Linked DNA regions of Homo sapiens. The protein of the gene in region 2 purifies or fractionates together with the protein of the main gene of each other region. This does not show direct contact. Each region holds a gene or a part of one and is shown on either strand. Other genes may lie near its edges.

Region 1 (4,875 bases), on a different chromosome or scaffold from region 2:
TTTGGGAGGCCGAGGTGGGTGGATCACCTGAGGTCAAGAGTTCGAGACCAGCCTGGCCAACATGGCGAAACTCCATCTAAAAATAAAAAACAAAAATAGATGGGCGTGGTGGTGGGTGCCTGTAATCCCAACTACTTGGGAGGCTGAGGCAGGGAGAATTGCTTGAACCCAGGAGGCAGAGGTTGCAGTGAGCCTAGATTGCACCACTGCACTCCAGCCTGGGCAACAGAGGAGGTATATGGTTAAGGATCACTGTAATGCACAATATAGCTATAGAGTTTACATCATTCCCAAAATAGAAAGGCTGTATATACTAATATTTTTTAATAATAAGACTTATAAAAATGTATAATGGTTCTAACCACAATTATTAGGAACAGGTCCAGTACTGGTACTCAACGTATTAATAATTCTTAAATACAATTCTAAAATATATAAACATGCCAGCTACTGTTATGGGTCAGTAAAAAGATGGCATAATTGCTGTTATAGTTTAATACTGACTGCTCCCTTAAATAGATAACTCTATTCACTTACATTAAGTCTATACACTCTCTCTCTCTCTCTCCCCTCCCCCATATATATATATATATATATATATTAGTATCTGCTTAGGACACAGAAGTCAATTACACCCAAACCCTGGATGGAATCAGAATCAGAATCAGCCATGCAATGAGGAAGAAGAAATGTAAGTTGCGGCCTGTGATTCCAACAGTTCTCTTTCTGGAATGGCTACCAAGAGAAAGGTATGTGACTCTTCCTTTCAACTCTAATGATACAAATTTAAATGTGAAATTAACAAGGTACAATCTAATGAGTGAAGGAAACAAAACTGTTTCTGTAAGTCTACAGATTGCTTAGCAAGAAGACCCTTTTCTCCTCTCCCCACTCCCCACCCCTACAACCCCTTCAGAAGTGTTCATTAAACAGCCATGATACAGAAACAGAAATAAGAAAACAAACAAACAAAAAAAACAACCACCAGGCAGAAGCAGGCATTGTACAGGAAATCTTTCCTACTCAGATTTCCATCACGTCCCTAATGAGGTATCAATCAGCTCTAACACCGTCTGCACAAAGTTGTTGAAAGATCGCAGCCTTTTTATAAGCAGGGTTTATTTACATCAGCATCCTGGAAGGAATGTATACTAACAATCTAGGACTTTCCTAGGCAGTATTTACAGACATCTGGGCCCCTACTAGAGCTCAAGTCCATTCAGCATCATCCTTGGTGCAAAGCAGAGTTAGCACTCAGGTTCCTCTGAACAGTATTTCTGATTCTGTCATTTCAGTGTCCTGCAAATCACAGTGTCCAACAGAATCAACACTGGTAAGAATAACCAATTAAATAAAAACTTGATTCTAATAATAAATTATTTTGTACTAATTTCTTCAATCTATACTAACTACAGCTCTCCCATGAAAATTTTCTGCTCTAGCTAAACACACTCCCACTGGAGTACGGAGAAAGGGGATCCACAGAAGAGCCTAATCCTGAACCACTTCCATGTATTTGCCCATCCATTTCTCCTCTCTGGCCAATACTCTTCATATTCAAATTCTACCAGTCCTTCAAAGATCAGATTAAGTTCCAAAATTTCAAAAGCCTTCTCAGCCTACTCTTACAGCTGAATAGTGCATACCAACTTCAATTAATTATAAACTCATGTTTCATTTTGTATTATTTAATAGAAACATTGGAATTTAATCTTTGTGTTTTTTACATTTTGTTTTCTCCACTAGATTACCAACTTGATGACATGAACCACTTATTAGAATTCTTTTGTAGCTTGTAACTGTATTAGGCACAGTTTCTTGAAGAAATTAAGCACATATTTACATGTTTTAAATAACTTTGTATTGATTTGCATATGTATGAAGGAGGTATGTCATACTTGGCTTTAGAAAAAAGTCTCGTCTAATATTCAAGGAACCAGTCTGTGACCTTTGTTTATTATGTAATTTTTTGAAACACAATCTATATTTACAATCCTATTAGCTGTTACTGGATATATATTTATGGAAGAATATAACACTACTTCTTCTTTATTACATACAATTTGGATACTCTTCTGCCTTCGCCATTAACTATACATTAAGACAGTTCACATAACTTTATTTTTTATTTTCTGTTTTTTTTTAGAGATGGAGGTCTAACTATGTTGCCCAGGCTGGCCTCGAACTCCTGGGCTCAAGTAATCCTTCACCTCAGTCTCTCAAGTTGCAGGGATTACTGGCTTGAGCCACTGTGCCTGGCAGTTTACACAACTTTAATTGCTGGTTTATGTATAAATTTCCTTCTATAATCTAGTCAGAATCTAGTCAACCTACTACTGCATAAAAATTTGCTGAATATCTCCCAAGAGCTAGCCCTCATAAAGGGTTTTAAGGCTCTCAATAAGCTTAATATACAGAAATAAACTGCATTGGCTGTATATTTGCACAAAAGTTGTAAACTTGGCTGCTGCAGAGCAATTTATGTACATACGGTACCTGTTTCTTTGGCTGTCCTTTTTTTGTGTAACAATTACTAATATACATTCCCTTTTATCTAAAAAAATCCCTATGTACTAATGAAACCTCTGCCAGAGGATATAAGGAACACGAAAATAGTATAAGACACATTTCTTGTGCCTGATGAATTTACACCCTTGTCAGGAAGATAAACATATGTATAAATTGTACCTACAGAAAATACATAATATAGTGTGATCAGACTGAATGACTTGGTAACTGAGAAAAATAAAAATAAACTGAATAGGAAAAAATGTCCTAAGCATTGCATTTAAATATCATACCTGGATTAGGACTCATTTTATGGGCATATATCAGTGCAAGTAGAGAACAAAGTGATACATCTTGTTTATTTTTAATAGCCTCAAATTCTCGAAGAGCTTCTTGAGTTTTACCTGAAAATCAAGATTATGATATGAAAAACTGTTCTTAGTGCAAAGCAAGAATTTAAAACTGATGGAACATGTTTAATGATTAACACGTACCTTCCATTAATGTGCCATAGGCATGATAAAACCTGAAGACTGGATCACTTCCATACCTCTTAATTCCTTCACTGGCAACCAGTAATACATGATGGAAATATCTCTCTTGACAATAGTAATTAATCAAAGTCTAAATGGAAATAATGAAAAAATGTTATAAAGGAATTCTGGTGCTCTGAAATACTCTAAGAAGCAGATAATAATCTAACATCTAGAATAATGTAAAATTCAGGCAATGTGACTTTTTTCTTCCAAGTTTCTTAAAATACTATTAATGGCTAGAACTCAATGCTAAGGATTGCAGAACTGAATGATCATAAAATTACTGAAATAATTCAATGTTTTCTAATAATTTAAATTATTTTTCCTAAGTTTTTGTTAACAGCACCGAAATGAGGCTGCTTTCACCTTTTTTCCTTTGCCCACATTTTCTTGAACGTTTTAGAAAACAGAAAGGCAGACAATAAACAGGAACTAAAAAAAAAAAAAAAAAGACAAGAGGCTTCCATTGCCAGACCATAGGTTTCTTTAAAAAAAAAAATCTTCTTTTTAAAATATCCAGTATTTTATTACAGCATTACAAAGTAATGACAAATTTAATTCTTCAACATATCATCAAATGTTATCTTACTCGGCTTTGAGTTCTGCGACAAATAAATTGTCAGTTAAGAATAAATAAACTATTTTTCAATGAAAATCGTTGTCTTTAAGCTTTTTCCAAAGTTATATTATTTCCATATACAAGACAAAACTACTATCAGGACCTACTAACTTCTGAATAAAAATGGGCCTGTGCTGTCTACCATTTTTCCTACGATTATGTCTAAGGCTTGGTTGCTAACCTCATCAAAGACAGAAACCACACTTTCCCACCATCACTAGGATACACCTGATTCACCAGAAAGCAGTTTGGGCCACCCCATACCTACCTACCTGGACTCTACAGCTTGTTCAGTAGCAGTGAGAAATACAGGTGACTAAGTGACAGGATTGAAATCTAAGGGTATCTAGACAGCTCTGGTTTGTTTGTTTTGTTTTGTTTTGGAGATTCTGTCACTCAGGCTGGAGTGCAGTGGCGCAATCTCTGCTCACTGCAATCTCTGCCCCCTAGGTTTAAGCGATTCTCCTGCCTCAGCCTCCTGATCTGGGACTATAGGCACACCCCACCGCACCTGGCTAATTTTTGTATTTTTAAGTAGAGATGGGGCTCCCCATGTTGGCCAGGCTGGTCTTGAACTCTTGACTTCAAGTGATCCACCCGCCTGGGCCTCCCAAAGTGCTGAGATTACAGGCGTGAGCCACCACGCCCGTCCGACAGCTCTGTTTTATATAGTCTCTTGCTTCTGGAGGGCTATAGTCCATGTACTTCTCTAGATCAGTTAGGCGACTGTTCTCTGTAATTTTACTCTGCCTCCCTCCTTGTGATCACTGCTCCCTAACCTCCTTTTTAGCCATGTTTCTTAAAAGTGTGCTCCATACCCCATCTCCAGACCCCCACAACACATTTCAGTGAAACACAGTTTTCCTCCAATGCTCCATTCCCTAAAGTTGCAGAATGACTTCTTACTTTGCCACAACTAAGGACACGTTTAATACCTTACTTGACTTCTGCACACTATCACTAAGCATCTATAATCCTCCTGAAAGGCAGTGGCATAGCACCATAAAAAGGACGCGAATTTAAAGGCAAAAAGAATCTCTGGTCCTTCTTACAACGCCTCAGTCTGCTCATTTATAAAATGCTGTTAGTAATGCAAATGTACAGGTCACTGTGAGAATTAATTAAGATATCATAGTATAAGAGTTCTATTCTGAAAAAAATAAGTTCCTCTGCATCCCATATGTTAATGGAATAAAAAAAAAATGTGTCCTG
Region 2 (4,875 bases):
CCAAGGCGGGCGGATCATGAGGTCAGGAGATCGAGACCATCCTGGCCAACACGGTGAAACCTCATCTTTACTAAAAATACAAAAAATTAGCCGGGCGCGGTGCCGGACGCCTGTAGTCCCAGCTCCTCGGGAGGCTGAGGCAGGAGAATGGCGTGAACCCGGGAGGCGGAGCTTGCAGTGAGCCGAGATCGCGCCACTGCACTCCAGCCTGTGTGACAGTGCAAGACTCTGTCTCAAAAAAAAAAGAAAATATTTTCCTTGCATGTGAACCCCATCTCTACTAAAAATACAAAAAAAATTAGCTGGGTGTGGTGGCAGGTGCCTGTTATCCTAGCTACTCCGGAGGCTGAGTCAGGAGAATTGCTTGAACCCAGGAGGCAGAGATTGCAAGTGAGTTGAGGTTGCACCATTGCACTCCAGCCTGGGCAGCAAGAGTGAAACTCCGTCTCAAAAAATAGCTACAGCATTCATTTTTGTTTTTGTTTTTGTTTTGAGACAGTCTCGCTCTGTCGCCCAGGCTGGAGTGTAGTGGTCCAATCTCGGCTCACGGCAACCTCTGCCTCCCAGGTTCAAGTGATTCTCCTGCCTCAGCCTCCCAAGTAGCCGGGATTACAGGCGCTTGCCACCACGCCTGGCTAATTTTATTTTTTAATAGAGACGGGGTTTCACCATGTTGGCCCGGCTGGTCTCAAACTCCTGACCTCAGGTAATCCGCCCACCTCGACCTCCCAAACTGCTGGGATTACAGGCGTGAGCCACCGCGCCCAGCCTACAGTATGTGATTTTGTTTCATCGATCATTTCACAGACTATGTATGAGATGAAATAGCTGTGGCCACATAGATAAGATATGGCAGTTTCTTATGATTTCAGTACTTCATATTTACCACCTTTTCAGGCAAGTTACTTTTTTTTTTGAAATGGAGTTTTGCTGTTGTTGCACAGGCTGGAGTGCAGGGGCATAATCTCAGCTCGCCGCAACCTCCGCCTCCCAGGCTCAAGCGATTCTCCCGCCTCAGCCTCCGAGTAGCTGGGATTACAGGCATGCGCCGCCACATCCGGCTAATTTTTGTGTTTTTAGTAGAGACGGGGTTTCTCCATGTTGGTCAGGCTGGCTTTGAACTCCCGACCTCAGGTGATCCGTCCGCCTCAGCCTCCCAAAGTGCTGGGATTACAGGCATGAGCCACTGTGCCCGGCCAGCAAGTTACTTTTTATCCATTATACAAGACCTCTTGGTTGCTAGAAGAATTTTTTTTTTTTTTGAGACAGAGTCTCGAGTCTTGCTCTGTCACCCAGGCTGGAGTGTAGTGGCATGATCTCAGCTCACCACAACCTCTACCTCCTGGGTTCAAGTGATTCTCCTGCCTCAGCCTCCTGAGTAGCTGGGATTACAGGCATGCGCCATGACGCAGGCCAATTTTTGTATTTTTCATAGAGACGGGGTTTCACCATGTTGGCCAGGGTGGTCTCAAACTCCTGACCTCAAGTGATCCACCTGACTCTGCCTCCCAAAGTGTTGGGATTACAGGCGTGAGCCACTGCGCCCGGCTGCTAGAAGAATCTCAGTGGCCAATTCTGTTTGGTGGAAGTCATTATAGCCTCCTGTGTATTTAGTGTTCCTGGGTTAATGTCCTTCTATTCATGGTAATTCATGAAATCTCAAAATAATCTCCAAACAACTTAGTCCTTGCTCTAACACCTATTCATTCTTGATGGTATATTCTGTATTGGCACGTTATCTTAACTCCCCAATCTTTTCCCTCTATATGCAAGCTATTGAATTAATCAGTGTGCTCTCATCAGCCCAGTTCAGGAAAAACACACTTCCTTTTTTGATAGTCTCACCCCTTGGAGTGACTCTTCTTCCTGGAGGCACTTTTCTAAAACAGTATCGATGGAAAAAAGTAAACAGATGGCTTCTTTTGCCTGAAAAACAGTAGTAAGTGGGTTATAATATATTTGTTTTTTAATCATGTCTTTATTTTTTAGCATGGGGCTTAACATTTTTCCTACTCTGAGTTATCCCAGATCAATAATAATTTCTATATATTATAAACCCTTATTTGCCAAAAGGTACTAGTACTATGTGCTAGTACCTTCCTTTCCATTTCATTGGTTTTTTTTTCTCATAGTCTGTCATGCTTGTTTCCTGACTTTTCTTGCTACCATAGTCTTTATCTTGCTTTTATTCATAGAGTTGACTGCTTTCTATTTGATATGTTCCAACTGCCATTTTTTTCTTCTCACCCTTGATCCAAATTTGATTTCTAATTATATAAGATAAACAAGAATGCCAAACTTACTGCCCTTTGACTAATTAGAACATGGAAATAATTTGAGTTTTAGAGAATAATAAAGTTTTTTTCTTCCATTTACAAAAGTAAGAAAACTTAAAAAAAAAAAAAGACTAGAAAAGAGAAAACAATCATGCCATAGTCTGCCACCTGAAGAAACCACCCTTGCTGTGTTCCTCCATCTGTCCTCCGTGCATGTGTGTTTGTATGTTTTGAGCTTGTGGTCACATTTGATAATGCTATGATGATTCCCATACATCTTTAGTAGACTTGGTTACAAATGCACTGTGTGGGACAGGTGCAGTGGCTCACGCCTGTAATCCCAACACTTTGGGAGGCCAAGGCAAGCAGACTGCTTGAGCTCAGGAGTTTGAGACCAGCCTGGGCAATGTCGGGAAACCCTGTCTCTACAAAAATACAAAAAATAGCTGGGCATGGTAGCACACACCTGTAGTCCCAGCTCTTCAGGAGGCTGAGGCAGAAGGATTGGGCGTGCCTTGGAGGTCAAGGCTGCAGTGAGCTGTGATGGTGCCACTGCACTCAGCCTGGGCAACTGAGTGAGACTCTGTCTCAAAAAAAAGAAAAAAAAAAGCATCATCTGATTTTAAATAGATCTTTATAGGTGTTAGGTGTTCAAAAGTATTTGTTAAATGAAATGATTGAATCCTTACTCCTCTCTGTGCCTCAGTTTTCCCATTTCTTAAATGGGGAAAAAATAATTTACAAGATGTTTTGTGAGGATCAGTGAAAAACAAACTGGGCATGTTGGAAATGGTTAGGTCATGTCAAAACTCTCCTTGCTGGCTGTCATATCGCTTTTTTCCCAGAGGCTACTACTTGAGAAGAGGCAAAGGAAAAAGCGCCTTGAGCCATTTATGGTGCAGCCCAATCCAGAAGCCAGGCTACGTCGGGCAAAGCCAAGGGCCAGTGATGAGCAGACTCCCTTGGTGAACTGTCATACTCCCCACAGCAATGTCATCTTACATGGTGTGTATTTAGGCAGCATCACTTCCTAGTGGGGTACAATTTTCACAAACCTAGAAGGCACGAGGATTGTCAGACGGACCAAAGGGACAATATTATTAGCACCATTACTAGGTACCTTCATAAATCTTTATAATCACATTTGGGGTCTTTGAGGAGAATAAAAGCAATGATATAATCAGTGGAAGATGCCTTAAGGTTTGCGTCCATTTTAGAACTGTTGTTTTCTTTTTTTTGAGACGGAGTTTTGCTTTTGTCGCCCAGGCTGGAGTGCAATGGCGCGATCTTGGCTCACTGCCAACCTCCTCCTCCCAGGTTCAAGTGATTCTCCTGCCTCAACTTCCCGAGTAGCTGGGTTTACAGGCGCCTGCCACCATGCCCGGCTAATTTTTTTATACTTTTAGTAGAGACGGGGTTTTACTATGTTGGCCAGGCTTGTCTCGAACTCCTGACCCAGGTGATCCACCCGCCTTGGCCTCCCAAAGTGCTGGGATTACAGGCTTGAGCCACCATGCCCGGCAAGAACTGTTGTTTTCTAGATGCCAGATGAATGAGTTTAGAATGACCTATTTGAGGAGCTCTTGATTGTTAAATCGTGGCAGAGGTGAATCATGAAGCCGGGAATAGGTAGAGAGCGTCCATTCTTCCAACAGATAGTTGAAAGGATCATCTGAGATGGGGAGGGGCGGAGGAAGAATAAGATTGTAAGTGCCTCTAAATCAAGCCACTGGAGCTATTGGCTTGTACAGGATCTGTACTATGGAGGACCTACTTTGTTTTCTTGGTCTCATTCTTAAGTTTCTGAAGTACATATTACTTCAGTTACTGAAGTACAAGTACATATGACTTTAGTAACAGAGCATGTTAATAAAATGAACACCAGGCTGGGCGTGGTGGCTTATACCTGTGATCCCAGCACTTTGGGAGGCCAGAAAGGCAGATCACTTAAGGCCAGGTGTTTGAGACTAGCCTGGGCAACATAACAAGACTCCATCTCTACAAAAAAATTAACAATTAGCCAGGTGTAGTAGCACACACCTGTAGTCCCAGCTACTCGGGGGACTGAAGTGGGAGGATCGTTTGAGCCTAGGAAGTCGAGGCTACAGTGAGCTGTGATTACACCACTGCTCTCCAGCCTGGGTGACAGAGTGAGATCCTGTCTCAGAAAAAAAGAACACCAGTTCTGACCTTCTCTCTTAACAAATGTTCTTATGGATGTTAAGAAAGGAGGGCAGATAAAATGATTTGGTAGTTCTTAATTCTGATCACATATGCCAAATCTACCCAACTAGTGAATAATACTTTGCTCCTTTTTTAAAATTCATTTTATTTTGGCCCTTAGGTATTGATGGTCCAGCTGCTGTCCTGAAACCAGACGAAGTTCATGCTCCATCAGTAAGCTCCTCTGTTGTGGAAGAAGATGCTGAAAACACCGTGGATACTGCTTCCAAGCCAGGACTTCAGGAGCGTCTCCAAAAGCATGGTGAGGACTGGTAATGATTTTAAGGCAATTTGTCTCCTTACTCAATTGTAATCTTTTCCTTTCTTTTCATTGTGGGTAACAATCTACATGACTGAAAATGACTCATGGCTTAGG

What was found. The genes of interacting proteins can lie anywhere in the genome.
Region 1: the proteins of TULP3 (region 2) and TTC21B purify together in Homo sapiens (affinity purification with mass spectrometry; 6 studies listed by BioGRID and IntAct, with this or other methods). This does not show direct contact.

What each region holds. Positions count from the first base shown.
Region 1 is NC_000002.12:165,946,593-165,951,467, forward strand, and holds part of TTC21B (tetratricopeptide repeat protein 21B), read right to left. Parts: intron 3,133-4,875; coding exon 3,003-3,132; intron 2,913-3,002; coding exon 2,802-2,912; intron 1,730-2,801; exon of another isoform or gene 1,443-1,729; intron 1,334-1,442; exon of another isoform or gene 1,296-1,333; intron 750-1,295; exon of another isoform or gene 605-749; intron 1-604. UniProt on the Homo sapiens protein: Component of the IFT complex A (IFT-A), a complex required for retrograde ciliary transport and entry into cilia of G protein-coupled receptors (GPCRs). Essential for retrograde trafficking of IFT-1, IFT-B and GPCRs.
Region 2 is NC_000012.12:2,917,642-2,922,516, forward strand, and holds part of TULP3 (tubby-related protein 3), read left to right. Parts: intron 1-3,121; coding exon 3,122-3,281; intron 3,282-4,620; coding exon 4,621-4,761; intron 4,762-4,875. UniProt on the Homo sapiens protein: Negative regulator of the Shh signaling transduction pathway: recruited to primary cilia via association with the IFT complex A (IFT-A) and is required for recruitment of G protein-coupled receptor GPR161 to cilia, a promoter of PKA-dependent basal repression machinery in Shh signaling.